Linked DNA regions of Homo sapiens: regions 1, 2, 3, 5 and 6 are each reported to be linked to region 4. The links are microRNA targets in miRTarBase. Many come from high-throughput screens and were not tested one by one. Region 4 holds a microRNA gene; each other region holds the end of a gene's coding sequence.

Region 1 (4,094 bases), not on the chromosome of region 4:
TAAAAAGTCACCAATAATCACAACATGTAATTCAGCAAAACTTCAGCCAACATCTAGTCAAACAAATCTTGCAAATAATCAGAATCTGAAAGCATCTAAGCTCCGCCCCCCCTCAGGCTCTTTCAAACAAAAACAAACAAACAGCCCCCAACTAGAGCCTCAAAGCTTCCAGGCCAAGACAAGCATCCCAAGGCCACTAACACAACGAAAAGAAATCATGCAGAATCCAAATGGCAATTTGCATTCTGGGGATTGTTTGGCCTCTAATCGATATTCTCGTCTTCCTAAACCAAAGATACATTAAGTACATAGCCATCACCTGCCAATTTGTTTCTTAAAAACAATCTCTTCTGTAATAGCTTTATGTGCAGCTTGCAGCTTGCTACTGTGGTGGAGGTTCCATTGAAAGCCTGCAAATCTTAAATTAAAATGTGGAAGCTTCTACTAGTTTGGCTCCTTCATTTTATATCCTGGTTGAAGTACATGCCATTTGAGCATAATTATCTCAGGTAAACACGAAAGTTTGCTTACCCATTTCAGAGGCCTGCCAAAGGCCCAAATCATGTTATCCATCCCTCTCCACGTCAGAAAATTCATAATATTTTACTGAGCAGGCAAGAAGTGTGCTTTGCTGGTTTAGTCCTATTAAGGTCTGTATTTATTGTGGTTGTCAGAACCTCACCCCTTTTCACTTGTCTCTCCTGTGAATATGGCTACTATTTTAACTAAAGATATGGTGATAATGGAAGATGGTAGTCTGTAAGCAGAGTTCTGGCCAGTGTTTTGTATATTTAAAAGGTCTATGCAAAAGCTTTGTGATGAATAAAGGAGATTAGGCTTTTAATGGAAAGTCTATGTAAGTTTTATTTTTCCTTGCCAGGGTCAGTCAGCTAATGTTACTGTTGATTCATTTCCCAAATTCCCCAGACTGAAAGTGTTTCTTATTACATATAAATCAGTTATATATTCCTTTACATCTTGTTTTACAAACACATGTGCATGCACACACACATATACACACACATACCATTTATGTTTGTATTTGTTACTGGGTAAATTTTGGAGCGCTTGAGATACACCTTGAAACCTGTACCTAAAGATGTATTCATTTGTAACATATGTTGGTGCTAGAGTTTTGCTGGTAATTCAGGCTTGAACCCTTAGGCTTGTGGATCCATGATAGCCATTTTAAGGTTCCACAGCATTATGTCTTTAATTGTAATATTTATATTTATTGATTTTCTGCTAATATCTGAAGACTGAAATAATGAACTTGAAACATTTGCACAAAACTTTGATGGGGTATAAATATACCATATATAGGGATTGTAAACTATTTTCTATAGCAAAACAAGTTAAAATATTTTGAGAAAAATAACAAATTTAAATAAGACTATCTTGAGAAAGCTGGAGTTCATAATATTCTCCCCCTCCCCCATCTCCAGTCTCCTAGGTTTCCCTTTTCTGTGTTTTTTGTTTTTTTCTGTTTGTTTTTTGAGACAGAGTCTTGCTCCATTGCCCAGGCTGGATTACAGTGGCGCAATCTCGGCTCACTGCAACTTCTGCCTCCCGGGTTCAAGCGATTCTCCTGCCTCAGCCTCCTGAGTAGCTGGGACTACAGGCATGTGCCACCATGCCTGGCTAATTTTTTTGTATTTTTAGTAGAGATGAGATTTCACCTTGTTGGTCAGGCTGGTCTCGAACTCCTGACCTCAAGTGATCCACCCACCTCGTCTATGGTGTATTTTTGAAAGACAATTTTTTAAAGGTAGATTTGGGAAAAAAATAGAATTGAAGATGGGAAATTTTGTTTTATTAAAAAGGTGCTAGAAGATGTTTCAAAGACAATATTCTTATTTTAATACGCTGTAGAAGGTAGGTGTGGAACCTCCATGCTACCATGTGCACAAACCTAATTATGCTTTGGGTCACTTGTCAGTTCAGTAAATCTGCCTTCCTCTTCTCCCAAATCATGTCATCTTTAGGTTGTTCACCTGCAGCTGCTTTAAATGAATTAGTATCTTTCAGATAGATAACCTTACAAGGAGAATGTTTGTTTTGAGCAGCTGACCAAAAATATATCAAACAGGATTATGGCCAAAAAGTCACTCAAATTTCTAGAGATTCCTTTAAAAGATGTATGTTGATGAAATTGCCCCTTTATAAGAAAAACAACAGCAAGTCTTTTAGTAGAAATTTGAAAGAAGTGTTTGCTACCATTTTGACCCATTATTCCCTTACCTATCAGATGAATTTGCCATTCACTGGATAGAAACCATTCTTGGATTTGGTAAGAGGTGAGCAAGACAAATCTTGTACCATACTCTTATGTACCAGCACTTCTGATGGAGAAGCAGTGAAGTTCAGAACGTTCTTCACATAGTCCAGATACTGTTAGAGTCAGGCAAATCAGCAAAGCACTTTGTTATGGAGATGACCCATGATGGCTGCAGTTGTAAGTGGGCATACATGTTCTATCATTTTGAAGGAGAAAGAAAACCGTTCTCACATGTTGCAAATATGTGAATCATACTATATTCCCCTAAAGTAAAACCAGTGACTTAGTGGTTTTTGGTTTATTTAGAAGTTGGTTTAGACCCTTATGAAACATTATTTACGAGTTGGCCTTATCCTTAAGGGAAAAGTTCTAAATTTTTAAATTTATTTTTAATTCCCTAGTCTGAGGGAAATGTCTTTATTGTCCATTACATAAAAATGTTGACTCCAGTAATTTATTTTTCTCTATTTTTTCCTCCATGTATTTACTCCATTTTTCTCTATTTTTTCCTTCCCTGATGGATTTGCAGAAATGTTAACCAATTAGCTCAACTTTTCTCTACCTTTGTTGAGTCTTAATCTTTTAGAAGATAGGCTTATCGTATATTTATGAAGCATAATATATTAAAAGAAAACAAATCTAGGATGCTTGCATGACATAAAGTATTTGCCTGCAGTTTTCATTAAAAACTGCAAGAATATCATGCTTGTCTGCTTCTTAGTAAATGTTAAGTCTGAAATGGAAGTGAGGATGTAACTCTACTGAATAATCAAAGATCATCTTAGATTTGGCTTGATCTGTGTTTATTGCTTCTATTAATGTAAATCAACTCTGTGCCAAATCCTCCTCCACAAACCATTTATTGTCTTAGTTCTAGTGGTATCAATGAAGATAGTTACAGTATATGAATTCTAAGTCCTGAGGAAGAAATTTTATGGGGTTTGTTAAGTTTCACATTCGTGAAAGAGGAAATTAGTAGAGTATTCAGACTTTGATATTTGGCTGTTAATGGGATGCATATCAAATTTTTAAAAGAAGGCTTGGCCTAAGGAGTTTATTGGTACAGGTGCAGATGATTTTAAGGCATTAAAGGATTATAGAGTTATGTCATTTAGACTGTTTCTAATAACTGAGACCATCTAACATTTTTCTTTTGGAGTCTCATTTTTATTTGTGCAATATTTTCAGGCATATAGGCTACTGTTCATTGTATTTATATATATATTAGAATTTACTAAGTACTTTAACAAGTAAAAATCTGAATATGAAAGAAAATATCAGATTTGCACTTTAAATGAGCTTAATTGCTTGAAGTTGTGCCTGAAATATCGAATTGCCTCCTATTGGGTGTGGCTTTGTTGAAATAAATTTGTAATTGTTGCTGTTTGAAGATATCAGTACAGCTGTTCACAGAAATATATTCCCAGCATGTCACTTTTCCATTAAAGCACTAAGTTTTCTTTGAATGTTCCATTGTTCCGATAAGTATTTTACTTTTTTCTCAGTACATCAGAGAGAGCGTGATCCCCCTACAGCTGTCACTTCCAAATGTTCCTGTAGCATAAATGGTGTTACAGACACTGAGGTGCACTCTTGGTTTCTGAGCAGAGTTGTCATACTGGTTTCCTGGTCTCTAGGGCACTGGGGATGTACTTTGAAATCACCGAACAGGCTTGCAATTAAGATCAATAAGGCTGCAGCACCATTTCAATTTACTTTCCATCTTACCCAGTAGTTTTTGTGTTTTTAAATTCGTTTGGGTGGTTATGTTTGCATGCTTAAGCACACATTTGAAAATTAATTATAGCTGTACTAC
Region 2 (4,089 bases), not on the chromosome of region 4:
CAAAAGATGAAAATCCCTTCATGTTATAACTCACACTAATTTTGCTAGTTTTTTATTAGAGCATTACAATTAAGACATTAAATTATAAACTTATGTGGTATATTTAGAAATTAAATTATAAAATAATACAAATACTTTCAAGGTGTGATGTGCCAACAAAATTTAAATTTTTCTCATTAGGATTCAGATTTCAGATTAGGCAAACAGTTTGGTTGATTCTGTGATGTATGTAAAGGTTGGAAGGGATGAGGGAGGAGGAAGATGTCTGTAAATAAATTATTTCACAGAATTTTTTTAAATCAAAAAAAGATAAAAATTTTTAAATGAGTTGATGTTCTAACCTGTTGGCCCAACATACAGAAAATACATGACAAGGGTGTTTTTTTTTTTTAAGCAAACAGCAGCTTTACAAACAGTAATACTTCTTTATACATATATTAAAGTAACAATGTGTTAAGATTGAACAGTTTCATGTTAAAGAGTTGAAAATGAGTGTAGCATTCACTACTCATTTGCACATTTCAATTCCCACCCCTCCCTCCTCCCCCAGCTTATTTAGAAATCAGACAAGTACATATTTGGATATTAATTTCTCAGTATTTAAACTATGTGAATTCCTTTTGACTAATTCTTTTCCAAATACTGGAATCATATAAAATACCATCTCTGCAAAAACAACCTCCAGTCAAAGCCAGTAAAAACTTCTCAATGTATAACACACATTACTTTTCCACATTTAGTCAAAAGAAATATATTACATCATTTACAAACATATTTAAACCGAAAATTAAGCTAATATGAACATCTGTCTTTTGAGAAGTAATCTTCACAGCAAACAAACCTACTGAAGCAGAAATCTAACTTTGGAAGTGTAATTCATATTTTAGTTAATATGCTTACATACTGAAATAGAAATCTATTATTAATTATTGCCAGTAAAACCACCTCTACACATTAAGAGAAAAAATCACTATGTTTTTTATTTCTTGTGATGATGAACCAACCCTTACTCTTCCCACTGGATCTCTTTATAGGTCTTCAAAGAGCCAACCATGCCCACTTCAAAAAATATATAAAAACTTTCCTAATTTTCACAACTCCTCCAAAGCCTGTAATTCAATATTCCAAAATTTAAAGGAAACAAGTTATAAAGACATTATTAATATTTATTTAAGCATGCTCTCAAAATGGTAACATTTCCTTTAATAATTCTTGGGTTGTCCTCTAGAGGTGACCTGTCTCATAAAAAGGCTATGGTCCCTTGGATTTGCTGGCAGAAGAGGTACTGCATATGCGAGAGCATTTACCGAACATATAAATAAACACTTCTGAAGTCTATAGCAAAACTAAAAGTTACCAGTGTTCTGAAGATTTCCTCAACTTCTCTTTTGATACAAATGTCAAAAATCTAAAATGACAATTCATGTTCAGAAGAGATATAAAATATAAGAAACCTGTGAAAAGCCATCATCTCAAGGTCAAGAGTTATCTGAATCACTGACATCGAGCAAAGGAAATTTACACCATAAAAAGTATGAACAGTTTTTAAATTCACTTTTAAGACTGTCAGTAGTTCAAAACCTCTATCATTTCTTTAAACCAACGAACACTTCCAAATGTGTAGAGACAGTAAGATCTGCCATGTATAAATCCATGAGTACTATTTCAGAGGCTTCATTCCTTACCTGCTGTGTTCCTTTAAATATTGGATATTTAGTGCCTAGGAAGTCTATACTGGAGAACAGTTTAGACAGGACAGTATAAGAATGTCCCCTTTTAGCACAATAATAAAGTTGATTGACTAACATTTTCTACACAGCTCCTGAACTTTCACAATTCACAAATACTAAATCATCAACCAAGAATCCAATCTCTCCAGTAATTAAATGCCAGCATTATAAAACATCAAAACTAGCACAGTAGTCCCAATGAGTTCAGTAAAGAATCTGCCCAATTCTTCTCTCCTGCCTCTGTGAGGCAAAGCCCTGCCCCAGATAATCAGGGCAGGGATAATACCCCTTCCTTCTCAGTTTTGTGCCTGCTTATGGAAGCTTGTAAGTGGAAAACACACACACGTACGGATGTGTGCATGTGTGTGAGGGGGGTGGGGGGGACAGTTGGGGGTGGTGGGGAGTTGGATGGAAGACAAAAAAATTACATAGTTTGTCATTCTTCCACCATTACATAAACTTGTAAAGTCACTGAAGTCCAGGTGGTGACTGACTAGCAAATAAAACATTTAGCTCATTTATTGTCTCCTAAGCAGGTATACAAACTCCTAGAGAAGGGCAGAGATAAATAATAGTGAATAGAGAATTAATACCTACATATCTGTATACTCTAAATCATCTAATAGTTTCAGCACAATTAGAACAACTTTCTCTTATCTTCTAAAACTTCCTCCTCTAAGCCTTGATTATCAGGATACATGTCACAAGTTGTGCAAAGTTCCTTTCCTTGACCTCCTGACAGTAACTATGGTCATTGCTATGTGGAAGGTGCTCAAGGCTAGGTGCAAAATAGGTATTTTTTAAAAGGTGAAACAGTTTTGCACTCAGGACAAGTTTGGATACTCAATCAAATCCATATCTCAAATCAAGAGTCCTGAACCAGAAGCATGCAAGAGAACACACCAGTATAAGACTCTGTTTCTGAAGAGTTTACATGTAAGTGCAGCAGTCATACAATCGGTTACAGTTATTCACCTGTCAACATGTGCCTAGCTTTTTGTAAATAAGTCTATGTACAAGAGCATTCCTGAGGTAAGTAAGAAGCAAATATGAGACAGAACCTGGAGGTCCTATCATGGGTGACTGTTCACTATTATAGACAGCATCTATCACTTTCCACAAATGAGGCTAGCTAGCTATAATCTAAGATGGTGGCTCCACTGCTAGCCGAAGTTTTGAAGGCTCTGTTTTAGCCCATCCCAACACTAATTAATTACAATAATCAGTGACTTCTGACTAAACATTTGTGGACCACATAAAAGTTGCATTGATTTTTTAACATACAACACTGGTGGACTTAGTTACCCTCAGCCTTTCATTTAATTTTCTGACTCCACCCCCAGTTCTTTTTTAAAGAAGCCCAAACAATTTTTTGGTCAAATTAGAGTAGAGGAGGTGGAGTCCTGAAGCAAACACTGATAACTGCTTCTATCCTTAGAACCTTGTTCTTTAACTTTCAAAATGTCTTTTAAGTAAGCATTTGAAATTTATTTTCTTTAAGATCTGGTCTTCTTTTTATCACTGTTTTTGATTACAAAATAAGCTGAAACAGATCTGAATTTTCCACACAGTTCTTAGAAAGACACTTAGATACTAATTAAAAGCTAAGCTACAGATCATAACAAGTAAAAGCTACAAAAATATTTGTTGGGAATTAAATACGTATATTAAATACTGGACAGTGCAAAATGTTGAGATGAAGCATAAAAGGTAATGGCTGCAACCCTTCCACAGCTGGAGATAGAGAGCCGACATTTCCTGAGTTACGTAGTTTGCGTTGTGTAATTAGAATCAGAGTGCTCTTTGTTGAGCGAGCTGCAGTTGCTGGACTTCTGCTGCCCAGGACTGGCCTGCTGGTCAGCAGTCCATGCCTCACTGTCCATCCCTGGCTCCAGCACCTCAGGCGCCTCTGCTTCCTCTTCTCCACTTTGCTCTACATTGTCTTCCTCAGAACCATTAAGGGTTTTTCCAAGCTGAAGGGTTTCCATAGTTCTCTGGGTCTCTGAGACCCAAGACTCAATTCTACTATTGAGCTGCACTTCTACAGATATGGGTTCATGAGTATAATCTTCCTCCTCCTCCTCATCTTCATCTTCTTCTTCTTCAAGCATGCCAGGTACAAGAGTGCTGGTGGTGCTGGTGATGGAGGAATTCAAAAGATCTCGGCAACTGCCATCCAAAGAGCCAGTCTCTGTACTCTGCTGTGAGGCCCATTCCAGGTCATCTGGCTTCACTTCCTCTTTATCACTTGCTGTGGATTTCCCAGCACTTGTAGCTGAGGTAGTACTGCCTGTAGCCACTAATGATGGCTGCTTACCAATTGGGGGTGTGTCAAATGGAAGTTTACTGGGTTTTTCAG
Region 3 (4,108 bases), not on the chromosome of region 4:
ACATGCAAGTGGAGCTTCTGGAAACTACTGTTTTGTTCTCTTTGCGTAGAAAGAGACACATATTTGCACCTTTTCCTTACCTAAGCCTATCCTTTTCACCCCTACTTTTGCCATCCTTGACAGCATCGTGGAGGAGTTACAGTATCAGCCCCGGACAGTTTTGTCTGTAGACTTTTCTACTGTAAGAAGAAAAAGAAACAGACAACAATAACAAAAAGACAAGCCCCAATTGAGTTTAAGCCACTGTTAACTTGGTATGCCATCAAACACAATTTTTTAAACCTAAACAATAGCTATGGTGTTTCACAGATTTGACATAACCAACAACAAATGGACCACTCCAATTTTTCTGGATAGTTAAAAAATAAGGCCTTCACACCAACACAGGTCCCAGACTGGCACTCTCGAATGACTAAGTTTGTAATTATTTCATCAGTTCCATACATTTATAATTAAGTACAGAGAAGATTAATGTAGATTCTTTATTGATTCCACCAATGTATTAGTAGATATGATAATAATAAATGGTATTTTTACATTCTCTTAACCAAAAATATAACAAATATTTACACTCAGTAAAAATACAAAAAGCATACAGAGGCACTGTCTTTCTAAAAGACATAAGTTTAAGAGGTATCAAAAAATAGGAGACAAACATTGCTTGTTACAGGATACCTTACAATCAATGAATTGTGCAGTAGAATTGCTATCTGATTATTACAGATGTGCAGTTTTGTTTCTGTCTTTTGCTGATTAGCTTACATGTCTCAATTTTAAAAGATCAAGTTCAACTGCATTCTGTGTATCAAAAATAAAGAAGCATTAAAAATGCACAACAAAAGTCAAAGATGAACCAGGATTCAAGTTTAAATTTGAACATGTACTGTGACACTTTTGACACTTTTCTGAAGATTTATCCCGTTTTTCTAGCCTTTAAGGTAATGCTGAAGGAATACATATACTTTAATATCACCTTTTTTAGAAACTTAAAATTGAATCAAAATAATCAGTTTTAAGGAAGCTTTTTCTCCTCCTTCCTTTTTTGTAGAGGAAAGAACACTTGATAAAAATTAGATTTGTTCTTAAAAACACCCATGATTACCATCACATTTTCAGCCTGGGAGAGATTCTCAAGGAGGTGATATAGATCGCAATGATGTGATTTATCACCCTCAAGAAAATTCACTAAAGGCTTTTTCTCCCCAAAGATCATATTGAAAGTAATCATTTGGAGTAAATTAGAATTATTAACTTTAATAAGCTTTTATGGAATCATGTACTGGATTTACTAATTCTCAAAATCTTTCACTATAAAGATATTTTGTTGAAACTTACTATTTGGCAAAAGTTTGCACTGAGCGTTAACTGCTTCAACAGTCTTGGCAGATTGAGAGTTGTGGCAGGAAGAGAGGGCACTAGTCTCTTCATTAAGATTATAAATTTATAAAACAAAAACAAATGGAGATCTGGAATTGGAGTAAATGCAGCTTAAGACTTCTCTTGTTCTAGTCATATGACAAACTAAGAGAAGGCAGGAATGTACCCTTAGTTAAAATATAAAAATCAAAACCTCATGATTTTTTAAGGGATACATACATAACAAACTACAAAGCATTTGGCTTTGGCTCCTGATCAATGTGATCAGCTGATCTGAACACTCACAGTTAAAGCTAGATAGATAAAACAAAGGCAGCTGTAAGGTGCAAGTCCAAAACCATAGGCCTCAACACTCTGTGCAAGATATTTACACTATTAAGGACAAAGACAGGTAAGGCTTCCATTTGGTTTGAAAGACCTGCTAAATAAAGACATTATGAAAACAGCACATTTTTCTGGGGAAATGAATATAAAATGGTGAGAGTAGACATCTGAATTTGATAAAAAAAGTGGGTATAGCAAAAATATATTTCACATTGTTTTGCTGTGGCCATGAAAACAAAATTATGCAAATCAGTGAAGGAAAAAATGTATAATCATAGGACCACTGTTTATAGGCCAAATCACTGAAGTGTAACTTTCAAACTAGGATTTTTGGTTCAGGTTATTTCCCATTTCAAAGGACCAAGAAAGCTATGGAACCACCAAGCCTCATTCTATCATACCTGCGATTAATTTCTAAGGCTTAAGTTTCAGATTAATGTTTCTTTACCACAGGAATTTTTGAAATGCTATTATTCCTAAAATAAAGAGACAATCATGTTGATGGGAAAGATGAACTACTACCATTTACCACTTACAACTGATTCATGATTTTAAAATGAAGGGGGATATGCAGGAAGACAGACAGCAGAGACAGCTAGGGAAAGACAACACATTTCTATAAAGGAGGCCACAAACCAACTAAATCCTATGTGGACACATACGGACAGCCATTCAGAAGTAAACCCCTTTTGGCTCCAAGTTGATCTGGGTAGTGCACGTTAATGGCTTTGGCTTTTTTTTTTTTTTTTTTTTTGGTAATTACAGAAGTTTATTAAAATTTCACTTGCTTTTACATTAAAAAAACTGAAAAAATTAAACTTAATATATATAAAATATATTTAATTTGCAAAAATGTGAAAAATCTGCCTCATCCAGTAAACAGTCACTGAAATTTTAATTAAGAGTGCCATACCCATGAGGCTGGAAAAGTATGTCCTCTCAAGGGCTAAAAACTGAGAACCAAGAGACAATCATTTCTGTAACTCCAGCTCCTCTTTCTCCCACAAAATGTTACTGCAGCCAGCTGAGAGCTGCAGGGTATGTCAGGTCAGACACAACCTGGTGCTATGAGATGTGGGGGAGGCATGCTGCAGAACACTGCATAAAGTCAAATTCGTCTTCATTATTACAACACCCATGATAAGAATTTCTTTAAAAAAAGTATTCCATACTTGAGTTATGAGAGATTTTAGTTTTGGGTTTCTATAGACCAGAACTCTCTAGAACCCAGTCTCTATTTGTTGGATCTATACTTTCAGTTACAATTCGATGCAGCATAACTTTCACTTAAGGAAGAATTTGTATACATGTCATTTAACATCAAAATTTCATTCTGTGGAAATTAGGGTTCCCACCCTCCTCCCCAAACTACTCCCTCCCATTTCCCAAAGGACTGACAAGAAACCCTGTGGCAGCTTCATTTGGCCTTCCACACCATGACCAGCAGGTTCCTAACACCTCAACTGCAAAGGGCTTCCTATTTCTCTCAAACTGAGACCTACATTGCATTGGTGCTACAGATCAAGTCACATCTCTGTGTAGATCAAGCATATCACCTCTGTAAAGATGACTTCTGTTTGGTCAGACCAGAGACAATTTTATGACCTCAAACATGAATATCAGCTAACAAGAGCTCTCAAATACAAACAAAACCACAACAATTCAAATAATAAGTTATTTTTCAAATATACAAGAATATCCTTGGTATTGGCAGACAATTTCAATTTGTCCTTCAGCCCAAGCTATGGCTTGGAAATAATAATGCCATTATCTTTAAAATAGCTTGTTAAAGAAAAATCTATAGCAATATACACAAGGATCACTCTGAGTTTACATTTTTTCTGTAACTGTGGTCCCAAGGCAGTTCCGGCGTGCAAAGTGGAGACTGGTATCCAGGCATAGCATCCATTGCTCAGGAAACTATTTATCTGCAGAAATTAAATGAAAGGAAGCATAACTCAGGTCTATTTCATTGCTCGGAGTAGAGGGAATAAAACCTCTGGACTGGTTGTAGCAATGAGCTGTTCGTTAGCAATGGCCTGCAGAATCATGAGGTGGTTCTTGCCCATTCCTCCACGACTTTCAGTGGTTTTCAAATAGGTCATCCAAAGGCTAGACTGCTGAAACTTGTTCATTTTCTGAAAATAAAAAATATATAATTAACTGGCAGATCAGCATATTAATGAGATCCTAATAATCTAGTTATCTATTTAGAAAATCAATGTCAACAAAGAAATCCTCTCAAACATTGCATCGAGGCCCAGATTTTATTATAATAATACCTATGATTTCTGATCACATTGAAGGTTGACAATAAACTGGAATTTCATGGTTTTTAATCATTTTATTACTCTTGTTTAAAAGCATAAATTTTCATTTATTTTCAATAAAACAATCATTTCTCAAA
Region 4 (4,108 bases):
CTTGTTTCCTCATGTTTGTAGCCTCATAGTCACAAGATGTTGCTGCATCTCCAGGTAGATGAAAGGCAGGAGCAAAAGGCCTTTATATGGATTGAACTGTGTCCCCAAAAAAGATATGTTGATATCCTAACCCAGATACCTGCAAATGTGGCCTTATTTGGAATGCAAATGTAATTAGTTAAGATGAGGTCATATTGAACCAGGGTGGGCCCTAATCCAATAACTGATGTCCTTACAAAAAGAAAAAACAGAGACAGACACAAGAAGAGAACGCTATGTGAAGGCAGAGACACACACAGAGGGAAGACAGCCCTGTGAAGAAGGAGGCAGAAGTTGAAGTATTGAAGCTGCAAGCCGAGGAATGCCAAGTATTGCTGGTGTAGGAGAGGAAAATAATTACCTTTTCTGTACCCATCCTAGGTTCTCCAGCTAGGGAAAATTAGACTGCATATTAGAGTGGCCCGGCACGGTGGCTCACACCTGTAATCCCAGCACTTTGGAAGGCTGACGGGGGTGGATCACTTAAGGCCAGCAGTTCGAGACCAGCCTGGCCAACATGTTGAAACCCCATCTCTACTGAAAATACAAAGATTAGCTGGGCTTGGTGGCAGGCACCTGTAATCCCAACTATGCAGGAGGCTGAGGCAGCAGAACTGCTTGAACCTGGGAGGTGGAGGTTGCAGTGAGCTGAAATCGTGGTACTACTACTCCAGCTTGGGCAACAGCAGAGCTAGACTCAGTCTCAAAAAAAAAAAAAGACTGTATATTAGACTGACAAAAGACAGATTAACAAGAGAAAAACAAACAAGTTTATTGAAATATGCATTGCACATACACATAGGAGTATTCAGTAATAAGTAATTCAAAGGAGTGGTTAGAACTTGAACTTAGTCTGGTGCAGTGGCTCACACCTGTAATCCCAGCACTTTGGGAGGCCAAGGTGGGCGGATCACGAGGTCAAGAGTTTGAGACCAGCCTGACCAACATGGTGAAACCCCATCTCTACTAAAAATAACAAAATTAGCCAGATGTGGTGGCACGCCCCTGTAATCCCAGCTACTCAGGAGACTGAGGCAGGAGAACTGCTTGAACCCAGGGGGCAGGGGTTGCAGTGAGCCAAGATCGCGCCCCTGCACTCCAGCCTGGGTGACAGAGTGAGACTCCGTCTAAAAAAAAAGAAAAAAAAAAAGAACTTGAACTTACATAGAATTGAGCAAAGAACAATAATTTTGTAGAGAAGTGGCAAGACAAAGGAAAATGACTTTGAGCTTCTAGGGGCAGCAAATTGTGGGAAGGCAAATATATGGGGAAACTTATGGTAGATGAGGGCTAGTTAATACGTTTTGTTTTTGTAGATTCCTCTGGATGACATCTTGTCTCCAGTGATAAGGTGTTGTCCCTTTATGTTATCCCTTTACTGGTAGGGGGGTAGAGGGGGGCACTTTCACAAGGGGAGCTTATGTTCTGTTTTCAGGCAGATAGGAGGCGGACAGAGATCTCATCCTGGGTCTGCTTTTTCTCAGTTGCCTTCAAGTCAAAATAATCCATATGCCAGAGTGGCATATTGTGGGGTGGCATAATCCAAACCCCTTCATTGGCAAGCATCAGAAGCCAGGAAGAGACAAGAAAAGGTTTTTTCCCCTACAGCTTTCAGAAGGAGCATGGCCCTGCTGACACCTTATTTCAGTCTGAGGGCCTTCAGAATTGTGAGATACTACATTTCTGTTGTAATCTACCCAGTTTGTGATACTTCGTGATGGCAGCCCAAGGAAATTAACACAGCACAAAATCTTGTCTTTACTTAGGATATCTCCAGCTGATTTCTTTTTATATCCTATTGGCCAGAACAAGGTCAAATGCCCAAACCAAGAACAACCAATTGATAAAGGGAAGGAGATTTCCATGACTGGTTAGGCCTATCCTGGAGTCGGGGACCACTCTCCTTGGAAGCAAAGATCTCTCCTTACCACCTGAACACACTGAAAGAAGGGAAAATGGCTCTTGGGGAGGTAGTGGGTAGTGCCTATCACACTTGAAGGTGGACCACTGTGCTGCTCTGTGGACTTTAGAAATGCTGCCCTACTTAACAGTGTTTGAGATTCATCTCAAAACAGATCTTTACCTTCTCCAGAAGCACTCAGGAGTTTAGGTGAAAGATCCAGGTGGATAGCTCCAGGGTAAGAAGTTAGAAATGCTGACACTATGTGAGAGATAGTGTTCATAGGGAGAGACCATGGGATCTTACCTAAAACCAAGAAATGGGTGGTAAATGTAGTGAAAAGGAAGCACCAGGAAATTGGAAATCTCAGGGAGGAGAAAAGGCAGGTGAAATGATCTGGTACTGATGAAAATCCCCCATCTCTACATCAAGGGGATTATTAACTCAGTTTCAAAAATAGAGAACAAGAGAGAAAAAGAGAAACAGGGATGCTGTTTTAACTATAGGCAGCAGTATATAGTAAGACATATTTTTAATCTTTTATCAGTGAAAGTGTAAACAGTTAAATCCAGCACTAAATAATAAATGTGTCAATATTTTAAAATATATTTTTTCATAGCTAAAATTAGAACTAAACATGCTAATGAACTCAGCACCAAGGGCTGGAGGTGATGGAGAGAACATTTCATCTCCCAGGCAACTCCCAACTCTGCAAGTTCTAGAATTCCTAAACATTAAATTTTCTTCATTGAAGACATATTTGGGAACTATAGCTTCATCATAAGGCAGCCAAGTCTTGTGATATATGGGTTAAAGGAAAGTTATGCTTCTCCTGGGGTCTTCCTCTACATTTCCACCTAGACGGGCCTGGGTCAAAATGTAGAGGAAGACCCCAGAAGGAGCAAAACTTTCACCTGCGCCTCTTCCACCTGGGTCTGTCCTTTATCCTACCAGCTCCAAGAACAGGATTGTAATTGGTCACCTGATCTACCTGCATCTTCCTGACTGCAACAAGTTCTTTGCCCTATAGCTGCTTTATTTCCACAGTTTGTCTTACCTGGAAGCACCTCTTCCTTCTTGGAGTCCCTTCTGTTCCCCAGACATACCTCTGTCATGGCACCATAGCATTTTGTGGCTTTTAAAAATTACATGTCTTATCTCCCCTTACTAAGGACTTTGGGGACAGTGATCTTGCCTTAGTTGTCTTTGGGTTCCCAGCATCTAACACCATTGGGGTCTCTTAAATGTTGGATGAATAAATAAATTATTAAAGGCTAATCTCAGGGGGGAATAGAATATGTCATAAATTCCTCAGCTGGAACTCATAGGGATCAATGATGTCCCACACAAAAGCCCTATAGGGACAAGAATTCAGGAAGGGTGTTAGCTGCAAATCTTCCTGGCCTATGGAGAAGCATGGAATATACTGTGAGCCATATATGTCCCTGAAGCTAATCTAATCTATCTCAATGAAATTATATGCTTAGGTATTGTCATCTCAGTTTCTAATGTGTAACTTTTGCTTTCCTTGGAAATTGAAAGGATTTGAGCCATTTCTTAGGTAGTTTCAGGACGATACTGCTTCTCAGAGTTAAGGACTTCCTTTTTTCAATGTGTACCTGAACATCCAGAAGTTAAAAACAAGAGTAGCAGAGTCTTGCAGATGCAAACATAGTACAGAAGTTCTCATCCATCGCCCAAATTGAAACGTGCAATGTAAGCTGTAGCCATCCAGTTCCACTGCAGTGCTGGAGCAGAGGAGCAAGGGAGTTGGGATGAATGTGAAGAACTCAGAGGACCATTGGGAGCATATTCATTTCACTCATTCTCCGTAAAAAACAGGCATGTTGCTGGTAACCTGGACTTTTTCCAACCCTGGCTACACAGTTGCTGGATTTAGGTGCCAGACTCCTGTTGCTTCTTATTGCAAAATGCCCCCACATGGCATTTTGCCCCATTTTCATTTCTGCTTCTGATTAGGTCACTGTGAACTTTCTCTCCATGTTTACTCAAAGTACCAGAAATATGTAGGGACAGCCTCCACTTATCTCGAGATTTCCTGCTGTTCATGATTCAGCTCACTTTGCTGTTCTTTTTCATTTCCTCTATCTTACATTTTGATTGTTTTTTATCTTCTTTTTCTTCAGCTTTATTGCTTGTTTCATTGGT
Region 5 (4,108 bases), not on the chromosome of region 4:
GCAGACCGTGCTGCTGAACAAGTGATGGAATATCAAAAGCAGAAACTACAAAGCCAGTATTTTCCTGATAGTGTAATTGTTAAAAATATAAGACAGAGCAAACAGCAAAAGATAACGCAAGCTATAGAACGTTTAGTGGAGGACCTCATTCAAGAATCCATGGCAAAAGGAGACTTTGACAATCTCAGTGGGAAAGGAAAACCTCTGAAAAAGTTTTCTGACTGTTCTTACATTGATCCCATGACTCACAACCTGAACCGAATACTGATCGATAATGGATACCAACCAGAATGGATCCTTAAGCAAAAGGAAATAAGCGATACTATTGAGCAACTCAGAGAGGCAATTTTAGTGTCTAGGAAAAAACTTGGGAATCCAATGACACCAACTGAAAAGAAACAGTGGAACCATGTTTGTGAGCAGTTTCAAGAAAACATCAGAAAATTAAACAAGCGAATTAATGATTTTAATTTAATTGTTCCCATCCTGACCAGGCAAAAAGTCCATTTTGATGCTCAGAAAGAAATTGTCAGAGCCCAGAAAATATACGAGACCCTTATAAAAACAAAAGAAGTCACAGATAGAAACCCAAATAACCTTGATCAAGGAGAAGGAGAGAAAACACCTGAAATCAAGAAAGGTTTTTTAAACTGGATGAATCTGTGGAAATTTATTAAAATACGATCATTTTGATGTTTACTATCATAAATCATTCTTAGTTCCACTGACACTTTACATGGAAAATGAGATTTATTGCTATAATACAAGAATTTAAGAATTGTGCCATTGTACTTATCACAAAACTAATCACATAGCCAATGATGTGTGAGTGAGAAACCTATCAGGTTTGTCCTGAGGATATAGCAAGAAAAGAAAATAACTGAAACTCCTTTTTTTTTGAGACGGCGTCTCGCTCTGTCACCCAGGCTGGAGTGCAATGGCACAATCTAGGCTCACTGCAACCTCTGCTTCCCAGGTTCAAGTGATTATCCTGCCTCAGACTCCCGAATAGCTGGGATTATAGGCACACACCACCATACCCGGCTATTTTTGTATTTTGTTTTCTTTTTTTTTGAGACAGAGTCTCACTCTGTCGCCCAGGCTGGAGTGCAGTGGCGCGATCTCGGCTCACTGCAAGCTCCACCTCCTGGGTTCACGCCATTCTCCAGCCTCAGCCTCCTGAGTAGCTGGGATTACAGGCGCCTGCCACCACGCCCAGCTAATTTTTTGTATTTTTAGTAGAGACGGGGTTTCACTGTGTTAGCCAGGATGGTCTTGATCTCCTGACCTCGTGATCCGCCCGCCTCGGCCTCCCAAAGTGCTGGGATTACAGGTGTGAGCCACCGCGCCTGGCCTATTTTTGTATTTTTTGTAGAGACGGGGTTTCACCATGTTGGCCAGGATGGTCTCAAACCCCTGACCTCATGATCCACCTGCCTTGGCCTCCCAAAGTGCTGGGATTACGGGCTTGAGCCACCATGCCCGGCCTAATTTTTATATTTTTAATAGAGATGGGGTTTCACCATGTTGGCCAGGATGGTCTCGATCTCTTGACCTCATGATCCGCCCCCCTTGGCCTCCCAAAGTGCTGGGATTACAGGCGTGAGCCACCATGCCTGGCCAAAAATAACTGAAACTTCTAAAGAAAATAATTTAGTTCATTCTAGTGTTAAAATGTTGGTCATCCAGTGAAATGAGCTAGGATCAGGTTTCTGACTTAGGAATCATACATGAATTCCAAAAGTTTTGGTGCAGTTTTGAGCTGTAATAACTAACTTAAAAGCAGTGACTGTTGCCATTTTCAAACATAGGTACTTAAACAACAGGGAAACCGAAAAATATGTTATCAAAAGTCACAAAACTGAAGTGTTATGAAATTTAACCAATTAAACCTCCAGATGACTTTTTTTTTTAAACGAGCTTGCTGGATTTATATTCCTGAACTTATTAAGGCTCAAAACCGTTCCAAGACTTTTGGGACACCCTCCATATGGGTGGAAATATTAAGATCAGAAAATTAGCCTACTGGAATTACTGTACTTTTCTTTTTATGAGGGCCTTCTCTGTGGGTACTGAATGAAAAACACACCAAACATCCAGATTCTACTTTTTCCTGTCTAACTTGATGGTTTATTGGCTGCAGAAATCAGTGAAGCTAGTTGATTTAGCAATTCTAGAAAAAAACTCCAGTGTCCGCTTTTTTTTTTTTTTTTGAGATGGAGTTTCACTCTTGTTGCCCAGGCTGGAGTGCAATGGTGCAATCTTGGCTCACTGCAACCTCCGCCTCCTGGGTTCAAGTGATTCTCCTACCTCAGCCTCCCAAGTAGCTGGGATTAGAGGTGCCCGTCACCACGCCCAGCCAATTTTTATTTTTTTTAGTAGAGATGGGGTTTCACCATTTTGGCCAGGCTGGTCTCGAACTCCTGACTTCAGGTGATCCACCTGCCTTAACCTCCCAAAGTGCTGGGATTACAGGCGCGAGCCACTGTGCCTGGTCCAGTGGCCACTTTGTTTTTTTGAAATGGAGTTTTGCTGTTGTTGCCCAGGCTGGAGTGCAGTGTTTCCTTCTTTAATCCAGAGTGCTGTGTTACAGAAGTGGTTCAGAAGTGAGGGACTCACCACCTGCATTTTGGAAGAAAGTGTTATTTTGTAAAATGTGTGATAGTTAAAACAACAAACAAAACTACACCTTCAAAAAGAAATTTTTGGCCTTTAGCTTAGATGCTGCAGCATTAATTGGCATAATATGTGATTATAATTTATTGAATGATTTGTCATTTGGTTTCTACAATGATAGTATCACTGTAAATAAAATTGTGAACAGTATGGAATGTTGCTTAATAAGAGCTATAGTTCCAAAAACATTTTAGAAGGCAGTAATTTTGTGACTCTTGTTAAAAGTGGGAATTCGAGGCCGGGCGCGGTGGCTCATGCCTGTAATCCCAGCACTTGGGGAGGCCCAGGCGGGCGGATCATGAGGTCAGGAGATTGAGACCATCCTGGCTAACACGGTGAAACCCTGTCTCTACTAAAAATACAAAAAAATTTAGCTGAGCATGGCGGTGTGCGCCTGTAGTCCCAGCTGCTGGGGAGGCTGAGGCAGCAGAATGGCACGAACCCAGGAGGTGGAGCTTGCAGTGAGCCGAGATCGCGCCACTGCACTCCAGCCTGGGTGACAGAGCAAGACTCCGTCTTAAAAAAAAAAAAAAAGTGGGAATTAGACGTAAGAGGCTTAACTGCATTACAGCAACATAGATGAACAAAACCATTTTCCATATTGGTCAATGAGAAGGTAAGGTTACCAGAAAATGTCAGTAAATTTTTAATTTCAGCACAGTGCACTTTATGTTTGTAAATGTTGTCTATGTTAATAAAGTTACTATAATAATTATTCAATGTCCCTTTGTTATAATGGTAATAATATTTTGGGCTAGGCATCTAATTTTTTTTTTTTTGTAATGGAGTTTTGCTCTTGTTGCCCAGGCTGGAGTGCAATGGCGCAATCTCGGCTCACTGCAAACTTTGCCTAGTGGGTTCAAGAGATTCTCCTGCCCCAGCCTCCCAAGTAGCTGGGATTACAGGCATGTGCCACCACGTCCGGCTAATTTTGTATTTTTAGTAGAGACAGGGTTTCTCCATGTTGGTCAGGCTCGTCTCAAACTCCTGACCTCAGGTGATCCACCCGCCTCAGCCTCCCAAAGTGCTGAGATTACAGGCATGAGCCACCGCCCCCAGCCCTGAATGCATTTTTTTAAAAAAATCTTTTTGATTGGCCAGGCACGGTGGTTCATGCCTGTAATCCCAACATTTTGAGAGACCAAGGCAGGAGGATTGCTTGAGCCCAGGAGTTTGAGACCAGCCAGAGAAACATGGTGAAACTCTGTCTCTACCAAAAACAACAACAACAACAACAACAAATCAGGTGTGGTAGCACATTCCTGTAGTCCCAGCTACTTGGGAGCCTGAGGTGGGAGGATCGCTTGAGCCCAGGAGGTCAAGGCTGCAGTGAGCCATGATCACACCACTGCACTCCAGCCTGGGCAAGAGTAAGACCCTCTCTCAAAAAAAATGAAAAACAAATCTTCCAGGCTGGAGTGCAGTGGCACGA
Region 6 (4,000 bases), not on the chromosome of region 4:
GCCTTTAGTGCCAAAGAGATGGCTAGCAGGAGAGTGGTGAGAAAGGAGAACTGGAGAGTTCACATGAGCGGAAATAGGAAGAAATGGATCCAAATCCAAGTGAGAAAAAGCAGGAGACTTAAAGTTAGCCTGGCAGGATGATGAGAAAAGGACATCTTGTCCTAGGGTAGAGGCGAGGGTGCAGATCTGGGGGAAGAAGGCTTATTGGGAACAGTTTCTCAAACTAGACATTCAGAAGTCAATACAAGGGCCAAAACCAAAATGTTCCTGGAGGTACCTGTTTTTGAAAGAGGTGGGAAAGGTGACATGGATTAGGGGTCTCCATCCCCCAGGCCACAGGCCAGTACCAGTCTGTGGCCTGTTAGGAAGCGGGAGCACAAAGCAGGAGGTGGGCGGCAGGCGAGTGAGCATTACCGCCTGAGCTCCTCCTCCTGGCAGATCAGCAGAGGCATTAGATTCTCACAGGAGTGCAAACCCCACTGTGAACTCCGCATGCAAGGGATCTAGATTGCACACTCCTTATGAGAATCTAATGCCTGATGATCTGAGATGAAACAGTTTCATCCCAAAATCATCTCCCCGCTGCTATCCCCCTCCATCCACTGGTGGAAAAATTGTTTTCCACAAAACCGGTCCCTGGTACCAAAAAGGTTGGGGACTGCTGACAAGGAGTATGAGTGTGAAAGGTGCAGAGGTCTATGCCAGGAGACAGCCATCCCCAATAGAAGCCCTCAGCTATGCACAAACTGCTTAATGTCATTCAAAGAAAATAATGTCGCCCATTTTGCCTCAGAGCTTTAGCCCCAATCACAGCAACTGCTATTTCCTGACGCTTACGCACCAGAGATGGTGATAAGAGCACTGCACGCATTATCTCAGTAATCCTCATAACAGCCCAATGAGTTGGCATTACTATCCCCAATTTATAGATGAGGAAACAGGCTCAGAGAGGTGAAGTAATCTGACCAGGTTACATAGCTAAGTGGAGTCAGGATCTGAATCCAAGAAGACTGTCTCTACAGCCCATGCTCTCAATAATCCATCCTGGGCTCCTCCAGAACCTGTGGGAAACTCAGAGGATGCCAAATGATAAATTCCTAAAAACCTCACTCCATTATATATGGGAGGAAAGAGAGGACACCTCTGTGAACCTGGAGTGATTCATCCCATCAGGGCACTTAGAGATGCTCCTCTTTGAAAGGGGAAAGAACCATCCCCAGATGTGGGGTGATCCCACATCTGCTGTATGTTTGAAGGTGATAAGCAATGGACAGTTCACCTCTGGAATGCCTGAGGAAAAGAGACCCTCCCCACCATCTCTGAGGGGCAGCCCTATTTCTTGGATACATTAGGGAAACCCTGCCCTAGGATCTGAGGGAAACACAGTCTCCACTCCAGGTGCCTGCTCACTCTCCTGGAGCTTCTGGCCGTCGCACCCTATTGCAGCTCCTGGGTTTGGCTGGGGCACAGGATTAACCATCCCCAGGAAATGCCTCCCTCCGGTCCAGGCAGGGATCCCAGCATACACACCCCTGGTGGTGGCAGTGGGGGAGAAAGGGGGAAGGTGGAATGCTTCCTTCTCTCCAGGTCAGGGAAGAGATCTGGGGACCACCTGGGGGCCCTCGCCCCTCCTGCCTCCTTGCTGGGGAAGTGCCCAGTCCAGTGCCCCCTCCATGGCCACCTCCCTCCCTCTAGCTGTGCCGGGGCATGAATCAGCTCTCACAGCTTGTTAAAGCTAGACCTCTTGTTTTCATGCCCTCACCTCAGGAAACAGAGTTACAACTTTTCCAGCTCTACTCAGCAGGGGGCCAGGGTCCTCACTTTATAAACATCCCCAGCCTGTGAGAGCAGAGGGCAGGGAGATAGTGTGAGACAGGAGCCCAGGGGAGAAAGACAGAAACTAAGACTCAAGGAGCAACGCAAAGCAAAGTCAAGGAGTCAAGACCAGAGTAGCTGAGCAGAGGCCAAGAAGGGTCTGAGAGGGCTGTGCAGCAGCAATGGCCCTAAGGATGCTCTGGGCTGGACAGGCCAAGGGGATCCTAGGAGGCTGGGGGATCATCTGCTTGGTGATGTCTCTACTCCTCCAGCACCCAGGAGTCTACAGCAAGTGCTACTTCCAAGCTCAAGGTAAAGTGGGGTGAAGCGTTAGGAATGGAGGAGCAGCAGAGAGGGCACAGGGAGGATGGGGCCTTACAGATGATCCCGTGTCAAAATACCCAGGCTTCCTCCAGCTGTGAAACAGGAAAGACAAACTAAATACGGGGATAGTGCGTACTTACTGTCTCCACCCCAGACCAGAAGAGCCTCTGCCTCTCATCAGCACTCCTACACCTACTAACATTTCCCGTTCTTCCCTAGCCCCCTGTCACTATGAGGGGAAATATTTTACCCTGGGTGAGTCTTGGCTCCGCAAGGACTGTTTCCATTGCACCTGTCTGCATCCTGTTGGCGTGGGCTGCTGTGACACGTGAGTGACCAAAGATGGCCAGAGAGAATGACTCTGATATGAGTGACTGAGGGATGACCAGGGAGTGACTAGATTGCTGTGATGTAAGAATGAACAGAAGAGCAATACAAGATGGGCCAAACCTGAAGGGACCAACACTAGTGTGAAAGATAAGGCTTCAGGCTATAAATCAGGGGAGGTTGGGGTGGACCTGGAGAGAAAATACTCCTGTTATAAAACAAAAAGGCCCACATATGGTAGGTGACAGCTTAGTTAGGAGGACCAAGGGGCCACTGAAAGGGGCTCTGTGGGGGGAAAACTGTGAGAGAGGGAACATGTGGGCAGGGATAAAGGCAGCCTTTCACTGTGCTGACTCCTTCCCCTATCCTTGGTTCCCCAGGTCCCAGCATCCCATCGACTTCCCGGCTGGGTGTGAGGTACGTCAGGAGGCAGGAACCTGCCAGTTCTCCTTGGTGCAAAAATCTGACCCTCGGCTGCCCTGCAAAGGGGGAGGGCCTGACCCAGAATGGGGCTCAGCCAACACCCCTGTTCCTGGGGCTCCTGCTCCCCACTCCAGCTAAACTCAACTGATCATCCATCTGCTGACTGCTCACTGCTGCTGCCACTTCCAGGGAAACCACTAGCAGCTGCCAATGTATTCTGAACAAATAAATTAATGCTATAGCTGAAAGCCCGACTCTCACTGTCCACGACATTGGACCCCAGGTGGAAAAAGTGGGTCCCATTAGAGTCCAGGTGCTGAGTTCTCAGTATCCGGAAGGAACTAGCACCAGGGTGGGCCAGTTTCAGATGGTTATGGTGCTGGTGCTGGGGCCTGGGGCAGCATATGAGGCCAGGGTGGGGCTAGTAGGCAGCACCTTGATGGGCAGGTCCCAGCTGAAGGTGTCTACAGGTACTTGCTCAGGTCCTGTCCAGGTGGTAGGTTCGGGCTGTTCCACAGGGGGTAGGAGTACCAATCCTGGTTCTCGGGACGTTACAAATTCAAAATGCAATCTCCACTTCAAGGACACTATGGAAGAAAAAGATTAAGGTAGAAGCATCAGAAGCTAGCAGGAGTAAAAGCCAATGACAGGATATAGTTAGTGAATGAGAAGAAAACAATCTGTGTTCAGGAAGACAGGGAAAAGTCACAGGGCAGGGAGCTGTGATTAAGGGTTTTTCTGAAGCAATGGGTACTACCACAGATGTGAGCTGAAGATAGCAGTATTAAGTACCTAATAACCTAAGAGTGAGGCAGTCAAGTCTAGGTAGCATGAAGTAATCAAAAATCAGTGTATCACAGGGTCCTAGTAGGTAGGTGTGGGGAAGGAGTTCTATCAAGCTGTTAGGAGTTTAGGGGTCAGTGCATCTAAGAAACAGGAAGAGGTTGAAGGTCTGAGAAACTGTTCCGGGTCAGAGGCTAGACGTGGGTATGTCTGGGAGTGTGTATAAGGAATCAGGATCCATTACACCCTCCCTTAGCACAGCATTTTACTGTCCCCCTCTCCCTTCTCCAGTAACAGTGAGGGTCTCACCAATGGCTGTACAGAAGCC

What was found. The annotated mature microRNA hsa-miR-4698 reads UCAAAAUGUAGAGGAAGACCCCA and lies in region 4 at 2,812-2,834, shown strand. An mRNA with a match to its seed (bases 2 to 7 or 8) in the 3' UTR can be bound and repressed. Matches are read on the target gene's strand: a 7mer-m8 pairs with bases 2 to 8, a 7mer-A1 pairs with bases 2 to 7 and ends in A, and an 8mer does both.
Region 1: miRTarBase lists CCSER2 as a target of hsa-miR-4698. Seed matches in the 3' UTR shown: 7mer-A1 at 1,363-1,369, 8mer at 2,218-2,225 and 8mer at 2,479-2,486.
Region 2: the mRNA of SECISBP2L is a reported target of hsa-miR-4698. Seed matches in the 3' UTR shown: 7mer-m8 at 3,415-3,421, 8mer at 3,187-3,194 and 8mer at 1,183-1,190.
Region 3: the mRNA of RAPGEF6 is a reported target of hsa-miR-4698. Seed matches in the 3' UTR shown: 7mer-A1 at 3,022-3,028, 7mer-m8 at 2,706-2,712, 7mer-A1 at 1,296-1,302 and 7mer-A1 at 998-1,004.
Region 5: miRTarBase lists DNAJC28 as a target of hsa-miR-4698. The part of its 3' UTR that is shown has no 7-base or 8-base seed match.
Region 6: the mRNA of RGP1 is a reported target of hsa-miR-4698. Seed matches in the 3' UTR shown: 7mer-A1 at 2,208-2,214 and 7mer-m8 at 258-264.

What each region holds. Positions count from the first base shown.
Region 1 is chr10:84,513,964-84,518,057 of GRCh38, forward strand. CCSER2 (coiled-coil serine rich protein 2) reads left to right here. Exons shown (of 10, transcript NM_001284240.2): 10 at 1-4,094. The coding sequence ends at 304. Among named protein-coding and RNA genes, the nearest start is that of CCSER2, 190 kb to the left of the region's middle. RefSeq lists an enhancer at 450-619.
Region 2 is chr15:48,988,751-48,992,839 of GRCh38, forward strand. SECISBP2L (SECIS binding protein 2 like) reads right to left here. Exons shown (of 18, transcript NM_001193489.2): 18 at 1-4,089. The coding sequence ends at 3,494. Among named protein-coding and RNA genes, the nearest start is that of SHC4, 27 kb to the left of the region's middle.
Region 3 is chr5:131,423,453-131,427,560 of GRCh38, forward strand. It overlaps RAPGEF6 (Rap guanine nucleotide exchange factor 6), which reads right to left. Exons shown (of 28, transcript NM_016340.6): 28 at 469-3,839. The coding sequence ends at 3,814. Among named protein-coding and RNA genes, the nearest start is that of CDC42SE2, 160 kb to the left of the region's middle.
Region 4 is chr12:47,185,049-47,189,156 of GRCh38, forward strand. MIR4698 (microRNA 4698) reads left to right here and starts at 2,764; the gene lies at 2,764-2,843. The region is part of intron 2 of PCED1B (PC-esterase domain containing 1B); the gene reads left to right.
Region 5 is chr21:33,484,812-33,488,919 of GRCh38, reverse strand. DNAJC28 (DnaJ heat shock protein family (Hsp40) member C28) reads left to right here. Exons shown (of 2, transcript NM_001040192.3): 2 at 1-865. The coding sequence ends at 693. Among named protein-coding and RNA genes, the nearest start is that of DNAJC28, 4.8 kb to the left of the region's middle.
Region 6 is chr9:35,752,127-35,756,126 of GRCh38, reverse strand. It overlaps RGP1 (RGP1 partner of RAB6A GEF complex), which reads right to left. Exons shown (of 9, transcript NM_001080496.3): 8 at 3,982-4,000; 9 at 1-3,476. The coding sequence ends at 3,253. It overlaps MSMP (microseminoprotein, prostate associated), which reads left to right and starts at 1,851. Exons shown (of 3, transcript NM_001044264.3): 1 at 1,851-2,127; 2 at 2,359-2,467; 3 at 2,847-3,137. The coding sequence starts at 1,998. The coding sequence ends at 3,027. RefSeq lists an enhancer at 2,038-3,237.